2 linked regions of the Homo sapiens genome follow. The main gene of each other region encodes a partner of the protein of the gene in region 2 in a complex. Each region holds a gene or a part of one and is shown on either strand. Other genes may lie near its edges. The genes, in order: RHOA and MYO9B.

What was found.
Region 1: the proteins of MYO9B (region 2) and RHOA are in contact, whole or in part, in a crystal structure (PDB 5HPY), measured with the Homo sapiens proteins. Residues at the interface, in NP_004136.2 of Homo sapiens: Glu1731, Gly1732, Arg1735, Lys1736, Ser1737, Gly1738, Ala1739, Ala1740, Arg1744, Lys1772, Gln1773, Arg1776, Arg1840, Met1841, Ala1845, Ile1848, Ile1849, Pro1852, Cys1853, Arg1856, Pro1863, Leu1864, Ser1866, Met1867, Val1870, Thr1874; in NP_001300870.1 of Homo sapiens: Asp13, Gly14, Ala15, Glu32, Tyr34, Val35, Pro36, Val38, Phe39, Gln63, Glu64, Asp65, Tyr66, Arg68, Leu69, Leu72, Asp90, Glu93, Asn94, Glu97.

What each region holds. Positions count from the first base shown.
Region 1 is NC_000003.12:49,372,367-49,382,022, forward strand, and holds part of RHOA (transforming protein RhoA isoform 1 precursor), read right to left. Parts: intron 3,226-9,656; 5' UTR 3,224-3,225; coding exon 3,068-3,223; intron 1-3,067. UniProt on the Homo sapiens protein: Small GTPase which cycles between an active GTP-bound and an inactive GDP-bound state.
Region 2 is NC_000019.10:17,196,021-17,205,676, forward strand, and holds part of MYO9B (unconventional myosin-IXb), read left to right. Parts: intron 1-1,771; coding exon 1,772-1,838; intron 1,839-2,163; coding exon 2,164-2,288; intron 2,289-4,272; coding exon 4,273-4,406; intron 4,407-4,618; coding exon 4,619-4,809; intron 4,810-5,905; coding exon 5,906-6,004; intron 6,005-6,109; coding exon 6,110-6,283; intron 6,284-6,821; coding exon 6,822-6,863; intron 6,864-7,126; coding exon 7,127-7,238; intron 7,239-9,242; coding exon 9,243-9,316; intron 9,317-9,656. UniProt on the Homo sapiens protein: Myosins are actin-based motor molecules with ATPase activity. Unconventional myosins serve in intracellular movements. Binds actin with high affinity both in the absence and presence of ATP and its mechanochemical activity is inhibited by calcium ions.

The sequences.
Region 1 (9,656 bases), on a different chromosome or scaffold from region 2:
CTTGGGCCAGAAAGTATCTTAGAGTTCCTATTAGCATAAGAGCAATCATCGTGGCTCACTCTGTATTTGAATAAAAAAGAGCACAAACTATAGGACGGGCGCAGTGGCTCACGCCTGTAATCCCAGCACTTTGGGAGGCAGGCAGATCACGAGGTCAGGAGATCCAGACCATCCTGGCTAACACGGTGAAACCCTGTCTCTACTAAAAATACAAAAAACTAGCCAGGCGTGGTGGCGGGCGCCTGTAGTCCCGGCTACTCCGGAGGATGAGGCAGGAGAATGGCGTGAACCCAGGAGGCAGAGGTTGCAGTTAGCAGAGATCACGCCACTGCACTCCAGCCTGGGCGACAGAGCGAGACTCTGTCTCAAAAAAAAAAAAAAAAAAAAGGACTACAAACTATGAAAGAGGGTTTTGAACATGGCAGTATTCATCTCTTAGAAAGCGCTTTGGTGCTGCCAAACATTTTCCGTTACTTCACAGAACCTTGATGTCACCTATAAAAACCGTTTTACAAATGAGGAAGGCTCAAAGGTCAGGAGCTTACTGATGGTCAAACAACTATCAGGAAGCCCTACAATGAGGGACCCTGGAGTTCTGAGCAGCTGATCTAACCCACATTCCTCACACAGTGCCACAAAAGGAGGCTAGGTGGCCCTAGGACAGAAAGAAATAAGTAATGTGGACAAGTAGAAGTGGCCAGGCACGGTGGCTCATGCATGTAATCCCAGCACTTTGGGAGGCCAAGGCGGGCGGATCACCTGACGTCAAAAGTTCGAGACCAGCCTGGCCAACATGGCGAAACCTCGTCTCTACTAAAAATACAAAGATTAGCTGGGCTTGGTGGCAGGCACCTGTAATCCCAGCTCCTCGGGAGGCTGAGATAGGAGAATTGCTTGAACTCAGGAGGCGGAGGTTGTTGTAAACCAAGATCATGCCATTGCACTCCAACCTGGGTGATAGAGGGAGACTCTGTCTCTAGACAAACAAACAAAAACAAAGTAAGAAAGGAGAAAGGGGATGAATGGAAGCTAATATATCAAGTGTTAGCAGCATATGAGACATATAACTGAATGCTCAAGAAAAATGAGAATGTTGGAGAAGAGCACCTCATTCTAGTTTTAGGGGTTTTTTCCTTTCAGCTGACCCACTTCAAAAGATGTATAGGAGAGCTGGGCACGCTGGCTTGCGCCTGTAAGCCCAGCCACTTGGGGCTGAGATGGAAGAACTTGAGCCCAGTTGTTTGAAACCAGCTGGACCAACACAAGACCTCATCTCTAAAAACATAAATTACCCAGGTGTGGTGGCACATACCTACAGTGCCAGCTATTTGGGAGGCTGAGGTGGAAGGATCACTTGAGCCCAAGAGTTCAAGGCTGCATGATCATGTCACAGCACTGCAGGCCTGGGAGACAAAGTACAATCCCTGTCTCTTTATTTAAGAGAAAAAAAAAAAAGTATGAGAGGCCAAGCAAAGCATTACTTAGACAACAAAAGGAAGCAGAAGATTAAAAAAAAAAACAAAAACAAACCAAAACCAAAATTAAAACCCAAAAAAACCCTCCAATTTCACAAGAGCTTTGTTCCAGTCTTGCCAGAGGGCTTTTAGGACAGAAATGGGGAAGCACTGTTCTCACCATCAATGACAATAAAATAAAACAACTGTGGCAGGCTATTTTATGTTAAAGTAAAAAAAAATCTTTTGGCCGGGCACAGTGGCTCATGCCTGTAATCCCAGCACTTTGGGAGGCCGAGACGGGCAGATCACAAGATCAGGAGATCGAGACCATCCTGGCTAACACGGTGAAACCCCGTCTCTACTAAAAATACAAAAAATTAGCCAGTCTGGTGGTGGACACCTGTAGTCCCAGCTACTTGGGAGGATGAGGCAGGAGAACAGCGTGAACCCAGGAGGCAGAGCTTGAACTAGTAATCTAATACTGGGACATCTGATTAAATACTTTGACAGAATTTTTGTCAAAGTCCAAGCATACAAAGAAGTTCATCTGAGCATTATCTATATGGCAATGAACTAAACTTCAAATATACGTAAACTTGAAAAGAGCACATATGGCTGGGCAAGGTGGCTCACGCCTGTAATCCCAGCACTTTGGGAGGCTGAGGCAGGTGGATCATCTGAGGTCAGGAGCTTGAGACCAGCCTGGCCAACATGGCAAAATTGCATCTTTACAAAATACAAGTATTAGCCAGGCATGGCGGCGTGCGCCTGTAATCCCAGCTACTCTACTCTGGAGGCTGAGGCAAAAGAATTGCTTGAACCCGGGAGGTGGAGGTTGCAGCGAGCTGAGATTGTACCACTGCACTCCAGCCTGGGCGACAGAGCGAGACTCTGTCTCAAACAACAAAACAAAACAAAAAAAAAACACATATGCTAAGGACACCATGTCAAATACATATGAATGTAAACAAAGTCTGGATGAGTAGCAGTTAAAAATGAAAAAACAGCCAATCACCTGCGGTCAGGAGTTCATGACCAGCCTGGCCAACGTAGTGAAACCCCATTTCTACTAAAAATACAAAAATCAGCCAGGTGTGGTGGCATATTCCCGTAATCCCAGCTACTGGGGAGGCTGAGGCAGGAGAATCCTTTAAACCTGGGGGAAGGCTGGGCACAGTGGCTCACTCCTGTAATCCCAGCACTTTGGGAGGCTGAGGTGGGTGGATCACCCGAGGTCAGAAGTTTGAGACCAGCCTGGTGAAACCCCATCTCTACTAAACGAAAAATGAGCTCAGCATGGTGGCAACATGCCTGTAATCCCTGCTATTTGGGAGGCTGAGGCAGGAGAATCACTTGAACCTGGGAGGCAGAGGTTGCAGTGAGCCAAGACCGAGCCACTGCACTCTAGCCTGGGCAACAGAATGAGACTCCGTCTCCAAAAAAAAAAAAAGAACAAACTTGGACTAAGATGGCAGGATGAGAATGGATTCTTCTTTCCAACATTTTTGTTATATGGTATACTGAAGAGGCAAAAAGCTCTAATTCTCTACATGCTCCATAAATATTCTAACATGGAAAATGGCATCAGTTGTTATGAAAAGTATACTCACCTGCTTTCCATCCACCTCGATATCTGCCACATAGTTCTCAAACACTGTGGGCACATACACCTCTGGGAACTGGTCCTTGCTGAAGACTATGAGCAAGCATGTCTTTCCACAGGCTCCATCACCAACAATCACCAGTTTCTTCCGGATGGCAGCCATTGCTGAAACACAAAACACAGATATTACCTGCAATGCACAAGAAGTCATAGGTAGCTTACAGGATGACACATGCTTTGGTAACCATGGGGCATAAACCTCTATTAGCATACTCAAATTCAAACTTCTAGTACGCCGATCCACCTGGCACCAAAAGGTTATACATTAAAAACTCGTAACTAACATTATACTTAATGGTAAAAGACTGAAAAAAAGGTCTGCCCCCTAAGATCAGGAACAAGACAAGAATGTCTGTTCTTGCCACTTCTTTTTTTTTTTGAGACGGAGTCTCACTCTGTCGCCCAGGCTGGAGTGCACTGGCCCAATCTCAGTTCACTGCAACCTCCAGCCTCCCGGGTTCAAGCAATTCTCCTGCCTCAGACTCCCAAGTAGCTGGGATTACAGGCACGTACCACCACATCCAGCTAATTTTTGATAGAGATGGGGTTTCACCTTGTTGGCCAGGCTGGTCTTGAACTCCTGACCTCAGGTGATCCACCTGCCTCAGCCTCCCAAAGTGCTGGGATTACAGGCGTGAGCCACCACGCCTGGCCTGTTCTTGCTACTTCTATCCAGCAGGATACTGGAGGTCCTAGCCAGGGCAATAAGGTAAGAAAATGAAATAAAAGACATCCAAATTGGAAAGGAAGAAGTAAAACTATCTCAATTCACACATGAGATGATTTTGTAATGTGGGAAATCCTAAAGAAAACTTTTAGAATAAACAAGTTCAGTAAGGTTGCAGGATACAATATTAACATTAAAAAATCAATTGAGCCAGGCGCAGTGGCTCACGCCTATAATCCCAGCACTTTGGGAGGCCGAGGCGGGTGGATCACGAGGTCAGGAGATCGAGACCATCCTGGCTAACACGGAGAAACCCCATCTCTACTAAAAATACAAATAACTAGCCGGGCATGGTGGCAGGCACCTGTAGTCCCAGCTACTTGGGAGGCTGAGGCAGGAGAATGGCGTGAACCCAGGAGACAGAGCTTGCAGTGAGCCAAGATCGGGCCACTGCACACCAGCCTGGGGGACAGAGTAAGACTCCATCTCACAAAAAAAAAAAAAAAAAAAAAGGAAACAATTTGTCAAGCAGGGTAAAAACAATGAAAGGACTGATGAAAGGGAGTACCCAAGGGAGGAAAGAACCAAAAAAGTCATCGGCAGGTTGTTTGGGTAGACATTCTGCAATCTTTCTAAGTTTGGATATTCCTTCTTTTACCAATCTAGATTTGTTTGTAAAGAAACAGCATTCTTGGCTGGGCGCGGTGGCTCACGCCTATAATCCCAGCATTTTGGGAGGCCGAGGCAGGCAGATCACCTGAGGTCAGGAGTTTGAGACCAGCCTGGCCAACATGGAGAAACCCCATCTCTACCAAAAATACAAAATTAGCCAGGCGTGGTGGCACATGCCTATAATCCTAGCTACACAGGAGCAAGAGGCAGGAGAATCGCTTGAACCCGGGAGGCAGAGGTTGTGGTGAGCCGAGATCATGCCATTGCACTCCAGCCTGGGCAACAAGAGCGAAACTCCGTCTCAAAAAAGAAAAATCAATTGAGGCCGAGCACAGTGGTTCATGTCTGTAATCCCAACACTTTGGGAGACTGAAGCAGGAGGAATGCTCAGGCCCAGGAGTTAAGAGACCAGCCCTGACAACATAGTGAGACACTGAGAAAGGAAGGACGGACGGAAGCATGAGAGGGGAGGGGAGAAAGAAAAGGGCCGGGCGCAGTGGCTCACGCCTATAATCCCAGCAATCTGGGAGGCCGAAACAGGTGGACTGCTTGAGAGTCCAGGAGTTCAAGACGAGCCTGGGAAACATAGTGAAACCCTGTCTCTACTAAAAATACAAAAAATTAGCCAGGAGCGGTGGTGCATGCTAATCACAGTTACTTGGGAGGCTCAGGTGGGATAATCCCCTGAGCCCTGGAGGTGGAAGCTGCAGTGAGCTGAGATTGCATCACTACACTCCAGCCTGGGGAACCCCAGTGAGACACTGTCTCTAAAAAAAGAAGGAAAAGAAAAAAAAAAAAATCAGCCAGTTGTGGTAGCATGCACCTGTAGTCCCAGCTACCAAGGAGGCTGAGGTGGGAGGATTGCTTGAGCCCAGGAGGTGGAGGATGTGGTGAGCTATGATTGCATCACTGCACTCCAGCCTGGGTGACAGAGTGGAACCTTGTCTCAAACTCTTATGACTCAACTACAAAAAAGCAGCTTAGGTTGGTGGTCTGGCTCAGGATCTCTTGCAAGGTTGAAATCATAAAGAACTCTTTTTGGGCTGGGCACGGTAGCTCACACCTGTAATCCCAGCACTTTGGGAGGCTGAGGCAAGCAGAACACTTGAGGTCAGGAGTTCGAGACCAGCCTGACCAACCCAGCAAAACCCCGTTTCTACAAAAAATTCAAAACTTAGCCGGGTGTGGTGGTGGGCACCTGTAATCCCAGTTACTCGGGAGACTGAGGCAGGAGAATCGCTTGAACCCAGGAGGCAGAAGTTGCAGTGAGCCCAGATTGTACCACTGCACTCCAGCCTGGGCAACAGAGCACTCCAGCCTGGGCAACAGAGTGAAACTGTGTCTTAAAAAAAAAAAAAAAAAAAAAGAGAGAACTCCTTCTGACATGAAGTACGCTATTTATCTATCCATCTATCTTTTTTTTTTTTTTTTTTTTTTTTGAGATGAGGTCTCACTCTGTCACCCAGGCTGGAATGCAGTGGCGTGATCTTGGCTCAATGCAATCTCCACCTCCGAGGCTCAAGTGATCCTCCCACTTCAAATTCCCCAGCAGCTGGGACCACAGGCATGCGCCACCACGCCCAGCTAATTTTTGTATTTTTGGCAGAGACAGGGTTTTGCCATGTTTCCCAGGCTGGTCTCCAACTCCTGAGCTCAAGTGATCTACTCGCCTCGGCCTCCCACAGTGCTGAGGGATTACAGGCGTGAGCCACTGCCCATCTATCTACGCATCTATCCAATCTATGTACCTATCTAACCTATCTATGTGTTTCTCTATTATGTAGTTATTTTCAGAAAGGGTCTCATTCTGTCACCAAGGCTGGAATGCAGTGGTGCAATATTGGCTCACTGCAGCCTCTGCCTCCCAGGCTCAACTCAAGCGATCCTCCCACCTCAACCTCTCCAGTAGCTGGGACTACCAGGCTCCTGCCACCACAGCTGACTAATTTTTATACAGATAGCGTTTCACTATATTACCCAGGCTGGTCTCAAACTCCTGGGCTCATGCAATCCTCCCGATTCAGCCTCCCAAAGTGCTGGGATTACAAGCATAAGCCACCTCCCCAGGCCTAAATACAGTATATAGAAAAAATTAAAAAATAAAGAACTCTTACAATTCAATAATAAAAAGACAAATAATCTAATCCAATTAAAAAATGAGCAAAGGATGTGAGTAGGTATGACCCTGCAATTCTATTCCTAGGTATATATCTAAGAGAAACAAAAACATATGTCCACATAACAACTTGTACCTCTACATGAATATTCATAGCAGGATTATTCATAATATATTGTCAAAAAATGTAAAGAACCCAAATATCCAACAACTGATGAATATAATATATCCATACAATGGAATGGAATATTATTCAGCGATAAAGGATAAAGTACTGATATATGCTATAGTATGGATAGATCTTGGAAATGTTATATAAGTGAAAGAACCCAGTCACAAAAACCAACATGCATGATTCCATTTATATAAAATTGTCCAGAATAAACAAATTCAGAAAGAGAAAATAGACTGGTAGTTGCCTAGGGCAGGGACTTGGGGGTGGAGAGAAATGGAAAATGACTAATGGAATACTGGAGTTTCTCAGGTAAAAAGATTTTTCCAAAATTATTGTGGTGATGGCTGCACAACTCTATGAATATACTATAAACTATTGATTATAGTATATATAATTCACACATTTTATTTATTTTGAGACAGGGTCTCACTCTGTTGCCCAGGCTGGAGTATAGTGGTGCGATCTCCACTCACTGCAACCTTAGCCTCCCCAGGCTCAAGTGAACCTCCAATCTCAGTCTCCCAAGTAGCTGGAACTAAAGGTGCATGCCACCACACCCGGCTAATTTTTTGTATTTTTAGTAGTGACCGGGTTTCACCACGTTGCCCCAGCTGCTCTCAAACTCCTGAGGTCAAGCGATCCTCCTGCCTGTCTCTCCCAGTGTGTTGGGATTACAGGCGTGAGCCACCGCACCCAGCCCACAGTATATATAATTCACACTTTAAAAAGGTGAATTGTAAGATATGTGGATTATATTTCAATAAAGCTGTTACCACCACTCTCGCCCCCAGTGGGGGGAAAAAAGAGAGAAATCTGCAGATTCCTTCCATCTGGCAGACAGTGATGGTCAACCATCCCAATTCCCGCCCTTCCCTCCTAGACCATACTTCGATTTTTAGCTATGTACTTTGTTGTAGACTACACTTCCTAGCTTCCCTTGGAGACATGGCCATGTACCATGAGATGTGAGAATCAGCAGTATGTTGTGGGACTTCCAGAAAGTCTTTCTTAAAGGGAAGTCTTTATTATCCTCCTCCTTTCCTGCTGCTTAAATCTAAAGTAAGGGCTGGTTTCTAAGCAGCCATCCTGGTATGTGAGAATGAATGCCATACCGTGGGGCTGGAAGAACCAAAAGGTAAAAAGGAGCCTGGATCTCAGGTGATCTTGGGAGCCACCATCTCAGCCCCAAGACTGCCTACCTTCCATGTTTCTTCCATATGAATGAGAAATAAATGACTGTCTTATTTAAGGTGGTATTTTTCAAGTCTCTGTTACCTATAGTCAAACTAATCCTAAATTATATACACTCAGCTGGGCATGGTGATTCACGCCTGTAATCCCAGCACACTGGGAGGCCGAGGCGGGCAGATCACGAGGTCAGGAGTTTGAGACCAGCCTGGCCAACATATGAAACCCCATCTCTATTAAAAATATTAAAATTACCCAGGCGTGGTGGGGTGAGGCAAGAGAATCGCTTGAACCTGGGAGGTGGAGGTTGCAGTGAGCCAAGATCATGCCACTGCACTCCAGCCTGGGTGACAGAGACTCTTGTCTCAAAAATAATAATAATAATAATAATAATAATAATAATAATAATAATAATAAATACTCATTATCAAAACTATATTGTCTAAAGGGTATGTTCCCCAACCAGAATGGATAAGACAATCCACAGGGGTACCAGAAGAAAACTCAGAGGGCAAACAACGACAAAAATAAACAATGAAAACAAAACAAAAAAACTCAGAGGGCTGACAGTGCTGCCATTACTCATTTGTGAATTCTCAGGACAATATTACATACAGCAGTGAATACGTGTGTGTGTATATATATAGATACAGATATTATAGAATTTTATCCAAATCTACAAAATCTAGTAACTTTTTTTTTTTTTGCAAAAAGGGAGTAAATTGAAGATACTACTAATCATGAAAGCACAATAAGAAGCATATCGATGATAGGGAAATGTGCTCAATGCATATCTTCAAACAAGAGCATGCAGTCAAGGCTAGGAGTAATGGCTCATGCCTGTAATGCCAGCACTTTGGGAGGCTGAGGTAGGCGGATCACTTGAGGTCCAGAGTTCAAGACCAGCCTGGCCAACATTGTGAAACCCCGTCTCTACAAAAAATATAAAAATAAGTTGGACGTAGTGGCATGTACCCATAATCCCGGCTACTCGAGAGGCTGAGGCAGGAGAATCTCCTGAACTCAGGAGGCAGAGGCTGCAGTAAGCCGATATCTCGCCATTGCATTCCAGCCTGGGAAACAAGAGAAAAACCCCGTCTCAAAAAAAAAAAAAAAGTTAGCTGGGTTGGTGGCAGGCACCTGTAACCCCTGAAAGGCTACTCAGGATGCTGAGGCATGAGAATCACTTGAATTAGGCAGGCGGAGGTTGCAGTGAGCTGAGAACGCGCCACTGCACTCCAGCCTGGGCAACACAGTGAGACTCTGTCAAAAAAAAAAAAGGATTGGCATGGTGGCTCACGCCTGTAATCCCAGCACTTTGGGAGGCCGAGGCCTGTGGATCACGATGTCAGGAGTTCGAGACCAGCCTGACCAACATGGTGAAACCCCATCTCTACTAAAAATAGAAAAATTAGCCGGGCATGGTGGTCCGCACCTGTAATCTCAGCTACTCAGGAGGCTGAGGCAGGAGAATCACTTGAACCCGGGAGGAGGAAGTTGCAGTGAGCTGAGATCGTGCCACTGCACTCCAGTTTAGGCAACAAGAGCGAAAATTCGTCTCAAAAAAAAAAAAGACAGAGAGTGAAGTTCCCCAGTTAGAGTCAAGTGTGGCAACTCATGCCTGTAATCCCATCTACTCAGGAGGCTGAGGTGGGAAGACAGCTAGAGTCCAGAGTTTGAGACCAGCTTGGGCAAAATAGCAAGACCCTATCTCATAA
Region 2 (9,656 bases):
TGTCCTGTGTATCATAAGATGTTGAGCAGCATCCCTGGCCTCCACTTACCACATGCCAGGAGTATTATCGATAGATGATGGATGGAGGGAGGGAGGGAGAGAGAGAGAGAGGGAAGGATGTGTGGGTGGGTGGGTGGGTGGGTGGATGGATGGAAGATAGAGATGATGGAAGGATGGATGGAAGGAAGATAGAGATGATGGAGGGATGGATGGATGGAAAATGATAGAGGTGATGAATGGAAGACAGATATAGATGATGGATGGATGGAAGATACACATGATGGATGAAGGGATGGATAGATAGAAGACAGGTAGTAATGATGGATAGAGGCATGGATGGATGGATGATACAGATGATGGGGAGATGGATGGATAGAAGATGGGTAGAAATTAGGCTGGGCGCGATGGCTCATGCCTGTAATCCCAGCATTTTGGGAGGCCAAGAGTTTGAGAGGAGTTCGAGACCAGCCTGGCCAACATAGTGAAACCCTGTCTCTACTAAAAATACAAAAATTAGCTGGGCGTGGTGGCGCATGCTTGTAATCCCAGCTACTTGGGAGGCTGAGACAGGAGAATCGCTTGAACCTGGGAGGCAGAGGTTGCAGTGAGCCGAGATCAAGTCACTGCACTCCAGCCTGGATGACAGAGATGAGACTCCGTCTCAAAAAAAAAAAAAAAGTAGAGATTATGGATAGAAGGAAGATAGATGCCGACGATAGATGGATGGAAGGAAGATAGGTAGGTAGAGACAATGAATGGAGGGATGGAAGATAGGTAGAGATGATGGATGGCTGGGTGGGTGGATGGATGGATGGATGGACAGACAGAAGGATGGGTGGATGGCTGGAAGATAGAGATGGAGAGATGGAAGGAACATAGAGTTGATGGATGGAGGGATGGATAGATGATAGGTAGATTATGGATGGGAGGAAGATAGAGATGATGGAGGGACGGATGGGTAGAAGATAGGTAGAGCCGGGTTCGGGGGCTCACACCTATAATCCCAACACTTTGAGAGGCTGAGGCGGGTGGATCACCTGAGGTCAGGAGTTTGAGACCATCCTGGCCAACGTGGCGAAACCCCGTCTCTACTAAAAATACCAAAAATTAGCTGGATGTGTTGGCGCATGCCTCTAATCCCAGCTACTCGGGAGGCTGAGGCAGGAGAATCACTTGAACCTGGGAGGCAGAGGTTGCAGTGAGCCGAGATCACACCATTGCACTCCAGCCTGGGCAACAAGAGCAAAACTCCGTCTAAAAAAAAAAAAAAGATAGATAGAGATGACAGATGAAGAGATGGATGGAAGGCAGATAAAGAGGATGGATGGGTGGAAGATAGAGACAATGAGTCAATGAGTAGAAGGATGGATGGATGGATAGATAGATGATAGATAGATAGATAGATAGATAGATAGATAGATAGATAGATACATAGATAGATAGATGGGCAGGCAGGCAGGGTCTCTTGGGCTAAGGCAAGGTTTCCTACCCTCCACACTCAACATCTGGGGCTGGCTCACTCTCTGGGGTGGAGACCATTCTCTGTAGGGTATTGAGTAGCATCCCTGCCCTCCACTCACCAGAGGCCAGAAGTACCCACCCACTCCTTTCCCCCCACCCAAGTGGTGACAACCAAAACTGTCTCTAGACATTGCCAAGTGTCCCCTGGCAGGGGCAGAACTGCCCAAGTGAGAACCCAAGAACCACTAAGACAAGAAAATGCCACTGACTCACTCTAGTCAGTAAAAGCCATGTTTCTGTGATCTCGCAGGGAGAGGCGCACCTCCTTCTCCACGAGCGACGTCTCCAAGCTCCTCCCGTCCCTGGCCAAGGCTCAGGTAACAACAACACGGCAAAACCCCGTCTCCACTAAAAATACAAAAATCAGCCAGGCGTGGTGGCGCTTGCCTGTAACCCCAGCTACTCAGGAGGCTGAGGCGAGAGAATCGCTTGAACGCAGTGGCAGGGTAGAGGTTGTAGTGAGCCTCGCGAGACCAGGCCACTGCACTCCAGCCTGGGCAACTAGAGTGAGACTCCGTTTCAAAAAAAAAAAAAGCAGGAAGTGAGGTCGGTGGATGGAGTGTAAATGCCTGCAGGGGCTTCCCCATCTAGCACAGGACTGCCAGCCTTTCCTTAGCAGCCCCCCACTGCACCGTCTTGCAGCCTGCAGCAGAAACCACGGACGGAGAGCGAAGTGCGAAAAAGCCAGCTGTCCAGAAGAAGAAGCCAGGCGACGCATCCTCCCTCCCAGACGCAGGGCTGTCCCCGGGCTCTCAGGTCGACTCTAAGTAAGTATTGGGCTTGGGGGAAACTCAGGCCACCAGAGGATGCCCGGGGTCCCTGCCAGGGCCTCGCAGCAGTGTGGCCTCCTAAACCAATCACGTTTACAAAGCACGTTCGCAAAGGCATTTGCTCAGTAGAAACTGAATGGGGAGGCCAGGCAGTGGCTCACGCCTATAATCCCAGCACTTTGGGATGCCGAGACGGGTGGATCACTTGAGGTCAGGAGTTGGAGACCAACCAGGCCAACATGGTGAAACCCCATCTCTACTAAAAATACAAAAATTAGTTGGGCATGATGGCAGGCACCTATAATCCCAGCCACTCGGGAGGCTGAGGCAGGAGAATCGCTTGAACTCGGGAGGTGGAGGTTGCAGTGAGCTGAGATCATGCCACTGCACTCCAGCCTGGGTGACAGAGGGAGACTCCGTCTCAAAAAAAAAAAAAAAAAAAAAAAGCCTCTAGGGCAGGATCCTTCCTGCCTCTTCTGGCTTTTGGGGGCTCCAGGTGTTCCTTGGCTTGTGGCTCCATCACTCTAATCTCTGTCTCTATCGGCACTTGGCCTTCCCCTCAGTGTCTGTGTCTTCTGTCTTCTGTCCCTTAAAAGGACACGTGGCTGAATGGATGCAGTAGGTCACGCCTGTAATCTCAACACTTTGGGAGGCCAAGGTGGGATGATCACTTGAAGCCAGGAGTTCAAGATCAGCCTGGGCAGCGTGGCAAAATCTTGTCTCTGCAAAAAAATTTCAAAAATTAGCCAGGCAGGGCGGTGCATGCCTGTAGTCCCAGCTACTCAGGAGGCTGAAACAGGAGGATCCCTTGAGGCCAAGAGATCAAGCCTGCAGTGAACTGTGATCATACCACTGCACTCCAGCCTGGGCAAGAGAATGACACTCTGTCTCAAAAAAACTTTTTTTTTAACTTAAAAAGATAATGAGCTAGGCGCATGGCTTGTACCTATAATCCCAACAACTCAGGAGGCTGAGGTGAGAGGATCATGCTCGTGAGGCCAGGAGTTTGAGGCTGTAGCGAGCTATGATCACACCACTGCACTCCAGACTGAGTCACACCCCAACTGGAACAAAAAGAAAAGAAAATGGAGTCCCCCTGTGGCTTCTGTTTGGTATCCTTCTTTCTTCACATAACTCCCCTGCCAGTACAAAGAAAGGGCTATTGCTCTTTATAAGATAATCCTGTGTTGTTTTTTTGTTTGTTTTTTTTTTGAGACAGAATCTTGCTCTGTTGCCCAGTCTGGCAGTCTGGAGTGCAATGGCTCAATCTCCGCTCACTGCAGCCTCCACCTCTCAGGCTCAAGCGATTCTCCTGCCTCAGCCTCCCAAGTAGCTGGGAGTACAGGTGTGCACCACCATGCCCAGCTAATTTTTTTTTCTTTTTTTTTCTTTTTTTTTTTTTTTGTATTTTTGGTACAGAAGGGGTTTCGCTATGTTGCCCAGCCTGGTCTCAAACTCCTGGGCTCAGCTGATCCACCCACCTCAGCCTGCCAAAGTGCTGAGATTACATAGGCGTGAGCCACCATACCCAGCCAGATCCATTTTTGTTTTTGTTTTTTGTTTTTTTTTTTGAGACAGAGTCTCACTCTGTCACCCAGGCTGGAGTGCAATGGTGCGATCTCAGCTCACTGCAACCTGCAACCTCCACCTCCTGGGTTCAAGCAATTCTCCTGCCTCAACCTCCCAAGTAGCTGGGACTACAGGAACCCACCATCACGCCCTGCTATTTTTTTGTATTTGTAATAGAGACAGGGTTTTGCCATGTTGGCCAGGCTGGTCTCAAACTCCTGACCTCAGATGATCCACCCGCCTGGATCTCCCAAAGTGCTGGGATTACAGGCATAAGCCACCATGCCAGGCCAGATCCTTTTTTGAGTCAGGCATTGATAGAGCATTTGCCATGTGTCCAGTCACAGGGAGGCTGGGCCTCACGTCCATTTTCATTTCAGACTTAAAAGAAGCCACGTACTTTCTCCTGCAGATCCACGTTTAAGAGGCTTTTTCTGCATAAAACCAAGGATAAAAAATACAGCCTGGAGGGCGCAGAGGAGCTGGAGAATGCAGTGTCCGGGCACGTGGTGCTGGAAGCCACCACCATGAAGAAGGGCCTGGAAGGTTGGTAGCCTGCAGCCTCAGGGACAGACAGTAGAGCCACCAGTGCCCCTGGGGACATTCACTGTCCCCAAACGGGGCCTTGAGTTGGCTGTGGGCCAAGCCCTAGGCACAGAGCCAGGGGTTTCTGGCCCTGGATAAAGGCGTGCCATAGGAGGTCCCCTGCATCCTCCCCCTGAACCCACCCTCACCGGCTGCTTCCTGTCCCCCCTCAGCCCCCTCCGGACAGCAGCATCGCCACGCTGCAGGTGAGAAGCGCACCAAGGAACCAGGAGGCAAAGGGAAGAAGAACCGAAATGTCAAGATTGGGAAGATCACAGTGTCAGAGAAGTGGCGGGAATCGGTGTTCCGCCAGATCACCAACGCCAATGAGCTCAAGTACCTGGACGAGTTCCTGCTCAACAAGGTGGGATCACTAGGCGAGGGCCAGGGGCATGAGGCCCGGTCCCCAGGGGAACCATCACAGCCAGGCATTGTTTTCTGAAACACACAACACAGGGTTTAGCAGGTCAAGAATACAAAGTCCAGGCTCAGGCCGGGGACAGTGGTTCATGTTTGTCATCCCAGCACTCTGGGAGGCTGAGACAGGAGAATCACTTGGGCCCAGCAGTTCAAAACCAGCCTGGGCAACAGAGAGACCCCATCTCTACAAAAGGTTTAAATATTAGCTGGAGTGGTGGTGCACACCTGTAGTCCCAGCTCCTGGGGGCTGAGGCAGGAAGATCGCTTGAGCCCAAGAGGTCGAGGCACCACAAGCCACGATCGCAGCACTGCACTCCAGCCTGGGTGACAGAGCAAGACCCTGGCTCAAAAAAAATAATAATGCATATTTGGTCTCAAAGCAAAGATTGATGAAGCACTGTGTGCAACAGAAGTGGAGGCGAACAAGCTGTGGCTGCCCTCAGGAGGGTTATACCCCGTGGGGGTGGGGGGTGGGCAATCCTGCAGCAGATAGAGCTACATTTGGGAGCTGCACAGCGGGCACAGGGGGCCGATGGGGACACAGAAGGATCAGGAAACCCTGCTAGGAGTAGAGGCATCTTGAAATTACCAGGCCATTCCAGGCATCCCCATCCTAAGGTATGGCTGGGTGTTGAGCCCCTGTGTGGGGCAGCAGGAAGGGCCTGAACTGACCTGTAGCTCTCATCTAGGGGGGATTCTGTCCGCCAGGGAACACTGGCAATGTCTGGGGACATTGGGGTTATCACAGCCTCAGGGGAGGGCGCTGTTGGCATCTGGTGGGTGGAGGCCAGGGATGCTGCTTAACCTGCTGTGGTACACAGGGCAGGCCCCAATGTGGAGAGTAGTCCTGCCCTCAATGTCAGTGGCTTTAACTCTGGGTTGACAAGATGAGAGACCAGGCTTGGCCAGAGGGACTGGATTTTATCCCGAGAGCCTAGGGGATGACTTAAGAGAGGATAGAAGTGACCCCTTGGGCACCTCCTCGGGTACGCAGGTCCCCAGGCCTGAGGCACGCAGGGTCAGTTCCTCTCCCCTTCCAGATAAATGACCTCCGTTCCCAGAAGACGCCCATTGAGAGCTTGTTTATCGAAGCCACCGAGAAGTTCAGGAGCAACATCAAAACGATGTACTCTGTCCCGGTATGTGGCGGCCCGGCCTTCAGCCTTTCCCATACCCTGCTCAGACCCGTCATTCCCATCCGCCCCTTGCCCAGGCCTGCAGGGTGACGCCTAGCATTCCTACAGAACGGGAAGATCCACGTGGGCTACAAGGATCTGATGGAGAACTACCAGATCGTCGTCAGCAACCTGGCCACTGAGCGTGGCCAGAAGGACACCAACCTGGTCCTCAACCTCTTCCAGTCACTGCTAGATGAGTTCACCCGTGGCTACACCAAGAACGACTTCGAGCCAGTGAAGGTGGGCAGCCCAGCATGCCACGCCCACCTGTGACATGCCACGCCTACCCATGCCTCGCCATCCTTAGCCACGCCCACCCATGCCTCACCATGCTTATGCCACACCCACCCATGCCCTGCCCATACCACAGCCACTGTGCCATGACTTGATCCACTTATGCCATGCTTACCTGTGCCTCACCATGATCACTTATGCCACACCCACCTGACATGCCACACCCACCCATGCCATGCCACGCCTATGACATGCAACATGCTATGCCTACCCATCCCTTGCCATGATTACATGCCATGCCCACCTATACCATGCCGTGCCCATTTGTGCCACACCTACCTCCTGGTGGGGAGCCCTGCACCCTCCCCAACAGAGCCTCACTTCTGGGTCTGGGGTGTCTGAATGGGGGCGTTAGGGACAATGATGCCACTCCAGGTGAGGGAGGGTTCAGGGTACCCACACGCCTGAGTTATGGGGTGCCAGGGGTGGGTTGGGGCTCTTCCCAGGGGGGCCCCCGCCAACCTCCTCCTTGTGTTCCTCACAGCAGAGCAAAGCTCAGAAGAAGAAGCGGAAGCAGGAGCGTGCTGTGAGTAGGCTGCACATAGATGAGAGTCCGAGCAGGCGAACATTGGCAGGAGCATGCACGTGTGTGTCAGTGTCAATGTGCGCATGGGCCCGTCTGCACGCGTATGTGTGCGTGGACACGTGTGAGTGTGTTTTTCCCCCGGCATATACGGAGCCGTAGTCTTGAATAAGTCACCCCTGAGATCCCATGGGTCGTCATCCACCAGTGGCTGGGGAGGGCTGCCTTCCCCTTTCCCTGCCCAGCGCCTTCCTCTGGCCTCACAGGTCCAGGAGCACAACGGGCACGTGTTCGCCAGCTACCAGGTTAGCATCCCGCAGTCGTGCGAGCAGTGCCTCTCCTATATCTGGCTCATGGACAAGGCCCTGCTCTGCAGCGGTGAGTGGCTCCCCCACCAGGCCCCAAAACCCTCCATGTCCCCCACCACCCCTCACTGCTCAAGAGGTCTTCAGGGCCAGGCGGGGTGGCTCACACCTGTAATCCCAGCACTTTGGGAGGCCGAGGCAGGTGGATAACGAGGTCAGGAGTTTGAGACCAGCCTGGCCAAGATGGTGAAACCTCATCACTACTAAAAATACAAAAATTATCTGGGCACAGTAGTGGGCACCTGTAATCCCAGCTACTCGGGAGGCTGAGGCAGGAGAATCACTTGAACCTGGGAGGCGAAGGTTGCAGTGAGTCGAGATCGCGCCACTGCACCCTAACCTGGGCAACAGAGCAAGACTCTGTCTCAAAAAAAAAAAAAAAAAGGTCTTCACCCCAGCCCAGCCACCAGGTCAGATCTTTCTGGACCGTTGTCCCAGCCATATCCCACCCCCTCAAACCGTCCACCATCACCGGAGGAGCAGAGCCCAATTCTCAGCTGGCCCCAAGGCCCCCAGTAGCCAGCACCCACCCACATCTGCAGCCTCCTCTCCTCGTGGGCCCTGCCTCTCTGTCTCTGTACACGCTGCTCCACCGCCTGAACCATCGGCCCCTCCTTCCCCAGGCTCCTCACGGTCCCTCCCCTGTAGGCCAGACTCAGCCCCAGGGGACCCTAAGAGACAGGGCCCAGGAATGACCCAGCTGATCCATGCTCACACAGCTTTGATATGGCCAAGTCAGTACCCAAGCCCAGGCAGCCTCCAGAGGCCCAGCAGGGTCAAGAGGGCCTCTCCTACATGTGTTTTTCTGCCAGAACCATTTGGGCCAGGGTCTTTTCAGCCCAGAAGGCAGCCCCACCACCCCACATCTGTCCAACAGTCAGTTGTCATGGTCCTGAGATAAGGATGCGGGACCCAGGCCCGTCCCCTCACCTGATTCCATCCTTGCCAGGTGCCAGACACTCTCTTCTTTAGCGTAACCAGTGTACCCTCTGCAAGGCGTCAGCTGGGTGGCCTGGGATTCAGTGTGGTTGGAAGAAGGAAAAGCAGCATTGTCTTTGCCCCGTGACATCTTCGTCCCAAGTCCCCAAGGCCACCTCCTGGCAGGACCTTTAGACCTTTAGTTCTGCCAGTAGGTGGCCTTGGGGACTTGGGGCAAGGATGTCACAGGTCCCCACAAACACCTGCTCATGGTTCCGCTAGCCAGGCTGGGTCTGAGGCCATGAATGGCCACCTTGGAGCTATGAAGTTTGTCCACACAGCCTCCTCTCTCAGGAGTCAGGGCACAGGTTCCTGCAGTGTGGGTTTAGAAGTTGGCAGGCCAGGCACAGTGGCTCACACCTGTAATCCCAGCACTTTGGGAGGCTGGGGCGGGAGGGTCGCTTGAACTCAGGAGTTCTAAATCAACCTGGGCAACATGGCAAGACCCCATCTATACAAAAAAAAATACAGAAATTAGCCAGGCACGGTGGTGCACGCCTGTAGTGCCAGCTACTTGGGAGGATCACCTGGGCCTGGGAGGTCAAGGCTCCAGTGAGCTATGATAGTGCCACTGCACTCTAGCCTGGGTGACAGAGTGAGACCCTGTCTCAAAAAGAAAAAGAGAAACCAAAAAGAAGGCAATCCAGGCCAGGTGCAGTGGCTTACGCCTCTAATCCCAACACTTTGGGAGGCCGAGGTGGGCAGATCACCTGAGGTCGGTAGTTCGAGACCAGCCTGACCAGCATGGAGAAACCCTGTCGCTACTAAAAATACAAAATTAGCCAGGCGTGGTGGCGCACACCTGTAATCCCAGCTACTCGGGAGGCCGAGGCAGGAGAATCACTTGAACCCGGGAGGCGGAGGTTGCAGTGAGCCGAGATCACGCCATTGCGCTCTAGCCTGAGAACAAGAGTGAGACTCCATCTCAAAAAAAAAAAAAAAAGAAGGCAATTGGCGGCCCCCGGCCAGCTGGGTGGGTGGCTGCAGGAATCTGGGGTCCCCAGCACCCTCTGTGACTCCCACCCTGTGGACCTCCTAGTGTGCAAGATGACCTGCCACAAGAAGTGCGTGCACAAGATTCAGAGCCACTGCTCCTACACCTACGGGAGGAAGGTGAGTGTACGAGGCCTGGAACTTTCTACAATGACACTCCACTCACGGCCAGGTGCACCAGGAGGTGGTGCTTGATGTGAGGGCCAAGCGAAGCATTGAGCAGCCAGTAGGGGGCGGCTGTGGCCTCTGGTTCTGCAGAACACACCATTGTCCCCGGTTCTGTACAAACTCCTTGAGGCCCTCAGGCAGGGCCCAGGCCTGTGTGTGTGTCTCAGCTCCCCCAGCCCTGCTCATCCTTGCTCCTGAGAGAGTCCTGAGCCATGCAGAGGGAGGCCCCCCAACTCTGTGCATAAGGTTGGGGTCCTGGGTGCTGGGGGTGCAGCAAGAGTCAGGGTCTACT